Homo sapiens: one gene and its partner. The protein of the gene in region 1 interacts with the protein of each later gene in a pairwise test. Each region holds a gene or a part of one and is shown on either strand. Other genes may lie near its edges.

What was found.
Region 2: the proteins of GPR152 (region 1) and RTN3 interact in binary tests that used the Homo sapiens proteins (3 or more experiments, as listed by UniProt).

What each region holds. Positions count from the first base shown.
Region 1 is NC_000011.10:67,448,854-67,454,116, reverse strand, and holds GPR152 (probable G-protein coupled receptor 152), read left to right. Parts: upstream 1-1,387; 5' UTR 1,388-1,392; coding exon 1,393-2,805; 3' UTR 2,806-2,816; downstream 2,817-5,263. UniProt on the Homo sapiens protein: Orphan receptor.
Region 2 is NC_000011.10:63,753,527-63,757,440, reverse strand, and holds part of RTN3 (reticulon-3), read right to left. Parts: intron 3,780-3,914; coding exon 3,733-3,779; intron 1,330-3,732; coding exon 1,271-1,329; intron 1-1,270. UniProt on the Homo sapiens protein: May be involved in membrane trafficking in the early secretory pathway. Inhibits BACE1 activity and amyloid precursor protein processing. May induce caspase-8 cascade and apoptosis.

The DNA.
Region 1 (5,263 bases):
TTTAGCAGCTCCAGGAGACAAACAGGGGTCACCTCCTGCCTGAGCTGTGGGAAGCGGGAGAGGGCCGCGGTGGGGTGGAAGATGCTGGAGAGGCACCAGGGGCTCCTAGGATGGCCCTCCTGACCCCAGGCTGTGGGGTCCTGAGGCTCAGAGACCTCATCCTGAGCCCATGAGTGACACTCGCTGGAGGGGAGGGGGTTCCCACTGCCCCAGACTCCCTACCTTCGGGTCCCCTGGGCCCATGGGAACCAGAGCCCTCCCTTCTTGGAATCCTAAACACTCGAACCCCAGAGGAGCAGGCATAAAGGGGCCTTGTGATGAGCGGACCAAACGGTCTTCAAACTGTGTTCCCTGGAACCCTGGGGGGTAGGGGTACTCTTCCCTCCCTTAATTTGAGCACCCCCTTTTAGTCCATATAGGAGTTCCACTAGAATACTTTTTTTTTTTTTTTTTTTGAGACAGAGTTTTGCTCTTGTTACTCAGGCTGGAGTGCGATGGCACGATCTTGGCTCACCACAACCTCTGCCTCCCGGGTTCAAGCGATTCTCCTGAGTAGCTGGGATTACAGGCATGCGCCACCACGGCCAGCCAATTTTGTATTTTTAGTAGAGATGGGGTTTCTCCATGTTGGTCAGGCTGGTCTCGAACTCCCAACCTCAGGTGATCCTCCCAAAGTGCTGGGATTACAGGTGTGAGCCACCGTGCCCGGCCTTAGAATACTTTACTTACAGACAAAATTCCATACCTTTAACAATGTTTGAAAGCCTCCGGGTTAGTCTATCCGGACCCATTGGGATTCTACATGGCAGAAGATTAAGTCTGTCTGGACAGTGTCTCATGCCTGTAATCTCAACATTTCAGGAGGCCAAGGTAGGAGGATCACTTGAGCTCACGAGTTCAAGACCAGCCTGGGCAACACAGTGAGACCTTGTTTCTACTAAAAATTTAAAAAGTAGTGGGTGCACACCTGTAGTCCCAGCTACTAGGGAGGCTGAGATGGGAGGGTCGCTGGAACCCAGGAGGTGGAAGCTGCAGGGACTGTGCCACTGCACTCATCCTGGGCAATAGAGCAAGGCCCTGTCTCTCAAAAAAAAAAAAAGAAAAGAAAAGAAAAGTCTGGGTTGAGCCCTGGCACCTCCCTTCCTACCTTCACTGATTCTCTGAACCTTCCTGTCCTCGCCTGTAAAGTAGATTGTATGAGGACTCCATGAGGTCATCCACTTCAAGTCCTTGGCATAGGATAATTACTCAAAAGGTGATGACAATGGCGCAGGGAGGGATGGTGACTTGCCTGGAGATGCACAGCACCGTCTCTCCCATACTCGGTCATTCACACCATCATTGATTCACCAGGCACCCACTCCGTGTCCAGCAGGACTCTGGGGACCCCAAATGGACACTACCATGGAAGCTGACCTGGGTGCCACTGGCCACAGGCCCCGCACAGAGCTTGATGATGAGGACTCCTACCCCCAAGGTGGCTGGGACACGGTCTTCCTGGTGGCCCTGCTGCTCCTTGGGCTGCCAGCCAATGGGTTGATGGCGTGGCTGGCCGGCTCCCAGGCCCGGCATGGAGCTGGCACGCGTCTGGCGCTGCTCCTGCTCAGCCTGGCCCTCTCTGACTTCTTGTTCCTGGCAGCAGCGGCCTTCCAGATCCTAGAGATCCGGCATGGGGGACACTGGCCGCTGGGGACAGCTGCCTGCCGCTTCTACTACTTCCTATGGGGCGTGTCCTACTCCTCCGGCCTCTTCCTGCTGGCCGCCCTCAGCCTCGACCGCTGCCTGCTGGCGCTGTGCCCACACTGGTACCCTGGGCACCGCCCAGTCCGCCTGCCCCTCTGGGTCTGCGCCGGTGTCTGGGTGCTGGCCACACTCTTCAGCGTGCCCTGGCTGGTCTTCCCCGAGGCTGCCGTCTGGTGGTACGACCTGGTCATCTGCCTGGACTTCTGGGACAGCGAGGAGCTGTCGCTGAGGATGCTGGAGGTCCTGGGGGGCTTCCTGCCTTTCCTCCTGCTGCTCGTCTGCCACGTGCTCACCCAGGCCACAGCCTGTCGCACCTGCCACCGCCAACAGCAGCCCGCAGCCTGCCGGGGCTTCGCCCGTGTGGCCAGGACCATTCTGTCAGCCTATGTGGTCCTGAGGCTGCCCTACCAGCTGGCCCAGCTGCTCTACCTGGCCTTCCTGTGGGACGTCTACTCTGGCTACCTGCTCTGGGAGGCCCTGGTCTACTCCGACTACCTGATCCTACTCAACAGCTGCCTCAGCCCCTTCCTCTGCCTCATGGCCAGTGCCGACCTCCGGACCCTGCTGCGCTCCGTGCTCTCGTCCTTCGCGGCAGCTCTCTGCGAGGAGCGGCCGGGCAGCTTCACGCCCACTGAGCCACAGACCCAGCTAGATTCTGAGGGTCCAACTCTGCCAGAGCCGATGGCAGAGGCCCAGTCACAGATGGATCCTGTGGCCCAGCCTCAGGTGAACCCCACACTCCAGCCACGATCGGATCCCACAGCTCAGCCACAGCTGAACCCTACGGCCCAGCCACAGTCGGATCCCACAGCCCAGCCACAGCTGAACCTCATGGCCCAGCCACAGTCAGATTCTGTGGCCCAGCCACAGGCAGACACTAACGTCCAGACCCCTGCACCTGCTGCCAGTTCTGTGCCCAGTCCCTGTGATGAAGCTTCCCCAACCCCATCCTCGCATCCTACCCCAGGGGCCCTTGAGGACCCAGCCACACCTCCTGCCTCTGAAGGAGAAAGCCCCAGCAGCACCCCGCCAGAGGCGGCCCCGGGCGCAGGCCCCACGTGAGGGTCCAGGAACACGCAGGCCCACCAGAGCAGTGAAAGAGCCCAGGGCAGACAGAGGAACCAGCCAGTCAGACAGGTGGGGAGCCGCCGACAGCTTTGTCCTTAAAAACCCTGCTGAGTCCGTCAGGCCTGGAAGGAGGACTTGAGGGAGGGGAAACAATCCAGCCAGAAGTCTCAGGCAGTTCCATGTCAGCGACCCCTGCTCCCGGCCATCAGCCTTTTCTGTGGTTGCTCCCAACACACACACAGTCGCCCGACAGCCCCCAAACCGCAGCTAATGGCATCTTGCGGGGTACTGTCCCTCAACACCCCAGACCCCGCTGACTATTCTTCCCTGGGCCTCAGTCCTGCTGGAGGAAGACAACAGGGGGCACTTTCCCCGGGCTTGACCTGACCTCCCTTTGGTCCTTCCCTCCCTCTCCTCCTCCGGGCCTGGACACAAGGACGTGAAACAAAAAAGTCCCTGAAGAGAAGGGGGCCTCCCAGGAGCCACCAGCCCCAAGCAGGAGCCTAAGGCCCTGGTGAACCACAAGCTGGCCTGGCATGGCCAAGCCTGGTCCACTAGTCCCCTTCCCCCAACAGTCATTGAGGCTGGGGCAGGGCCTCCCTCAGCAAGGCGCCAGAAGAGGCAAGAGCTGCCTAGCCTGGATTCAAATCCAGCTCTGCCATGTCCCAGCTGAGCGACTCTGGAGGAGCAACTTCACCTTCCGAGCTCCCGTGTCATCAGCTGTTGAGAGGATGCAATAAGAAAGTGTGTAAGGCATTACAAGAGCCTGGCGCACGCAGGGGCCTGGTGAACTAGCCTTTCTTCTCCTTCATCCACATACAGGATGTCCCTTTAGAGGCTGGGGATGGATAGAGGAGGCAGTGGGGAGAGCCACCACCTGGCCCAGGCATCTGGGATCTTGTGACCTGTCTGGGCCGTAGACACCCAGGTGGCCTAAGACCAGGAGGCCGCCTCTGTGCCTTGGGGGCCTGCAGGGGACTTCAAAGTCTGATTCTATTTAAAAGTTCAATTAGCATCCACCTGCTCCCCACCTCCCGTGGAGGGCTGCACAAGATTCTTTGTGGGGGCTGCAGGTACAGAGGGCCCCGATCCTGCCTGAATAACAGCCTCCCTCTGTCTGAGCCCAAGTGCACAGATAGGAAGTTGTCCAAGCACACAGAGCTCAGGGCACCAGTGGGTCTAGGAAGGGCAAAGGCAAAGACGGCCGGGCGCGGTGGCTCACGCCTGTAATCCCAGCACTTTGGGAGGCCGAGGCGGGCGGATCACAAGGTCAAAAGATCAAGACCATCCTGGCCAACATGGTGAAACCCCGTCTCTATTAAAAGTACAAAAATTAGCTGGGCGTAGCGGCGCACACCTGTAATCCCAGCTACTCGGGAGGCTGAGGCAGGAGAATTGCTTGAACCCGGGAGGCAGAGGTTGCAGTGAGCCGGGATTGTACCACTGCACTCCAGCCTGGCGACAGAGCAAGACTCCATCTCAAAAAAAAAAAAAAAAATTAGAAAGGGCAAAGGCTCCCAGAGGTCACACAGCTTCTCTAGGGCAGAACCAGCTCTTCCCTCTCAAGCTGCTGATGCTGCAGAAAAAACTAGAAGTGCTGAAGGTCTATCTTCCAACCCCCACTCCACTTCCCTTTTCCTACCCATCGTCCTCTCCTGGCACCCACCCCACCTGCGTTCTCCTTACCCCCAGTGTTCCAGTCATGCCCCCTTATCCCATTAGCTCAGTATCGTGACCTTCAGCAACTGAGACGCCCTTTCCGGCAGGTGTAAATGACAATGATGTCAGATGTGCAACCCTTCCCAGAGACACCTGCATTTTCCAAATGCAGCAGGCTGTGCAGGCAGCCTAGAGTGATACAGTCAGGTCTGGGTTCTGGTTCCTAACTTCCTTCCTCTCAGCCTGTTTTCTCCTCTGTAAAATGGAGTGATCATGTTCCCCTTGCAGGCTTGGCAGTTCTGATCATTGACTGAGCCCAGGGATGGGAAGTGCTGTGGGCGGTGGTGGTGGTGATACCAGAAGCATAGTCGTAGTGATGGAATTGCGGGCACTGAGGCCCATGGGAGAGAGATTTCTGGCCAGGCATGCATTTATTGAATTCATTCATCCAGTATTTCTTGGGCACTCGCTAGATGCCTTTCTGGCCAGCCTTCCATTCTGGAGCCACTTGGGTGAGGTTAAGGGTTTGCCCTCTTGGCTGGGCGCAGTGGCTTACGCCTGTAATCCCAGCACTTTGGGACCCTGAGGCAGGCAGATCACAAGGTCAGGAGATCGAGACCATCCTGGCTAACATGGTGAAACCCTGTCTCTACTAAAAATACAAAAAAAAAAAAAATTAGCTGGGCGTGGTGGTGGGCACCTGTAGTTCCAGCTACTCGGGAGGCTGAGGCAGGAGAATGGCGTGAACCTGGGAGGCGGAGCTTGCAGTGAGCCGAGATCGCACCACTGCACT
Region 2 (3,914 bases), 3.7 Mb from region 1:
GTCAAGGCTGCAGTGAGCTTTCAGCTTGTGCCACTGCACTTCAACCTGGGTGACAGAGTGAGACCCTGTCTCTAGAAAGCAAAACAAAAAAGAAAGAAAAAAGAAAAAAGAAAAAAAATACTGTCCTCTAGGTATGGGGAAAAAAAGTAAAAAGAAGAAAACAACTCTTTGATATAGGGAGTCATAAAGATGTTTGTCAATATTTTATTTCCTGATTTATTAATTGGTTTAAAAAAATGGGAACAGAGATTTGGCAATCTTAGAAAAGACAACTTTGATCCTTAAGTTACTTATTTACTAGAACTTTTGTTTCTGAGAGGGATACGTTTGGCTTAAATGAATACATGTGAAAATAAATGAAGGTGGGGAAGCAACCAATAACTTTTTGGTTTTTTTTTGAGACGGAGTCTCACTGTCACCCAGGCTGGAGTGCAATGGCATGGTCTCTGCTCACTGCAACCTCGCCTCCCAGGTTCAAGCAATTCTCCCTCCTCAGCCTCCTGAGTAGCTGGGACTAAAGTTGCATGCCACCACACCTGGCTAATTTTTGTATTTTTAGTAGAGATGGGGTTTCACTATGTTGGCCAGGCTGGTCTCGAACTCCTGACCTCGTGATCCACCGGCCTTGGCCTCCCAAAGTGTTGGGATTACAGGTGTGAGCCACCGTGCCCAGCCTGTAATGAAGAACATTTAAAAGCCAGTTCAAAAAGGCAGAGTAGCCTATGGTCCTTGCTACTGGAGAAGCTGAGGTGGGAGGATCACCTGAGCCCAGGAGGTCGAGACTGCACTTCAGCCTGGGTGACAAAGCAAGACCCTGTCTCCAAAAAATTCCACTGATCTTTTTTTTCCCATTGATCCTCTTGTCTCAGCCTCTCCAGTAGCTGGGACTAAAGGCACGTGTTACCATGCACAGCTAATTTTTTATTCTTAGTAGAGACAAGGCCTAGCTATGTTGCCCAGGCTGGTCTTGAACTCCTGGGATCAAGCAATCCTCCTGTCTCGGCCTCCCAAAGCACTGGCATTACAGATGTGAGTCAAAATGCCTGGCCTACAAAGGTCCAGAAGGCAGGGCCAGAAAAAGATATAAAGGATTTTTTTTCCTTTTTATAGAAGCAGCTATAATAATTTTTAGTAAAATGAAACTATTAACTAAGGTTTTTATCAAAATGAAAATTACTTTCCTTGGCATCTGCATTTTGTACAAGGGACTAAAGATAATTGGGGGGAAGGAAGCATACCTCATGATGATGTGGTCTCTAAATGTACTTACTTTTCAACAATTGACTTGGTCTGATCTCGGGCGATGCCAACATAGTGATCAATCTGGGTCTTTAAGGAAGGAAAATAAATTCAGTTGTGGTAACATACAGATCACCAATTTTCCTGAAGGCACGGCTCTTTTGTCTAGTTTAACCATTTTTTAAACACGACTGACCAGTGTAGAAAATGAAAACACCCAGTTTTTAAAAGTTTTTTTTTTTTTTGAGACGGAGCCTCGCTCTCGCCCAGGGTGGAGTGCAGTGGCGCTATCTTGGCTCACTGCAAGCTCCACCTCCCGGGTTCACGCCATTCTCCTGCCTCAGCCTCCCGAGTAGCTGGGACTACGGGCGCCCGCCACCACGCCTGGCTAATTTTTTATATTTTTAGTAGAGACGGGGTTTCACCGTGTTAGCCAGGATGGTCTCGACCTCCTGACCTCGTGATCCACCCACCTCGGCCTCCCAAAGTGCTGGGATTACAGGCATGAGCCACTGTGCCCAGCCTTTTTTTTTTTTTTTTTTTTTTTTTTGAGATGGAATTTTGTTCTTGTTGTCCAGGCTGGAGTGCAATGGTGTGATCTCGGCTCACCGAAACCTCCACCTCCCGGGTTTAAGCAATTCTCCTGCCTCAGCCTCCTAAGTAGCTGGGATTACAGGCATGCGCCACCATGCCTGGCTAATTTTGTATTTTTAATAGAGACAGAGACAGGGTTTCTTCATGTTGGTCAGGCTGGTCTTGAACTCCCATCCTCAGGCAATCCACCTGCCTCCGCCTCCCAAAGTGCTGGGATTACAGACATGAGCCACCACACCTAGCCTTAAAAGTATTTTTAAAACCTCTGGTTTTAGAATCCAAATTACACCATAAACACCCCACACTTTGTTAAAGTGAAAAAATCACTCATCTTTTGCAGAGGTTAAGTCTTACTTGGTAAGTATTTTCTTTAGAGACACTGGAGTATATAACAGTTTCCAATGACTAGAAACTGTGTGTCTAATCTATTTTCTGTCATCATAAATATGTTATGGCTCTTGTGTAACACTAATTCACTTAATACCAAAAAGCCAAAAAGTCTCTTGATGGATGACTTAATCCATAAAGAATAATCTCATGGCATCTAGTATACTTGGTACACATCATCCAACAATGCAAACACCTCATCACACTGATGGATTACCTGAATAACCTAGAGTTTAAAGTTTCCTTTTAGACACCCGGCTTTTATTCATCTAAGCATTTTTTTTTTTTTTTTTTTGAGACAGAGTCTCCCTGTCGCCCAGGCTGGAATGCAGTGGCGCGATCTCGGCTCACTGCAAGCTCCACCTCCCAGGTTCATGCCATTCTCCTGCCTCAGCCTCTCTGAGTAGCTGGGACTACAGGCGCCCGCCACCATGCCTGGCTAATTTTTTGTATTTTTAGTAGAGACGGGGTTTCACCGTGGTCTCAATCTCCCATCTAAGCGTTTTTTTTTTTTTTTTTTTGAGATGGAGTCTTGCTCTGTCATCCAGGTTGGAGTGCAGTGGTGCAATCTCGGCTCACTGCAACCTCCACCTCCCAGGTTCAAGCAATTCTCCTGCCTCAGCCTCCTGAGCAACTGGGACCACAGGCGCCTGCCACCACACCCGACTAATTTTTTGTATTTTTAGTAGAGATGGGGTTTCACCGTGTTAGCCAGGATGGTCTCGATCTCCTGACCTCGTGATCTGCCCGCCTCGGCCTCCCAAAGTGCTGGGATTACAGGCGTGAGCCACCGTGCCTGGCCCCACACTGGGCTAATTTTTATATTTTTAGTAGAGATGAAGTTTTACCATGTTGGCCAGGCTGGTCTCGAACTCCTGACCTCAAGTGATCTGCCTGCCTCGGCCCCCCAAAGTGTTAGGATTATAGGCATGAGCCACTGCTCCTGGCCTTTTTGAGAGAGGGTTTCACTCCCATCACCCAGGCTGGAGTGCAATGACATGATCTCGGCTCACTGCAACCTCTGTCTCCCAGGCTCAAGTAGATTCTCCTATCTTAGACTACAGGTGCAGGCCACTGCATCCGGCTATTTTTTTTTAGAGACAAGGTTTTGCCAGGTTGCCCAGGCTGGTCTTGAGCTCCTGGGCTCAAGGGATTCTCCCGCTTCAGCATCCCAAAGTGCTGGGATTACAGGCACAAGCCACCACCCCTGGCCTAAGCATTTTTTCAACTTATTACTTTTGCATAGAAAATACATCTACATGATTAAAAACTCGAAAGGCACACAAGTATAAAAAGGAAGTTTCTCTTTCCTAGTCATCTCTCTCCTAAATATCCAGTTTCTCTCCTTGGAGGAAACTACTGCCACCAGTTTCTTATAGGCACTTGACTCACAAAATTAGATTGTAGAAATAGTTATAAAAAGACTGCTCTGAACATTCAATGTCTCAGAAATGAACTACAACTAGTCATACATCAACTGGCACATTTGATTTGGAACAGATAAATGCTTACCTTGTACTTCTCATAGACAATCGGGACACTGAAAATGAGCAGTTCAGCTGTAAGACAGAATCATGGGACATGGCAAGTGTATATGAGAGACAGTCACATCTTAAGACTCAGAGTAACATATACATTTTTCCTCAAAAAATACAGGAAAACACAGGCATTCCTCAAAATGAGAAATCCTGGTT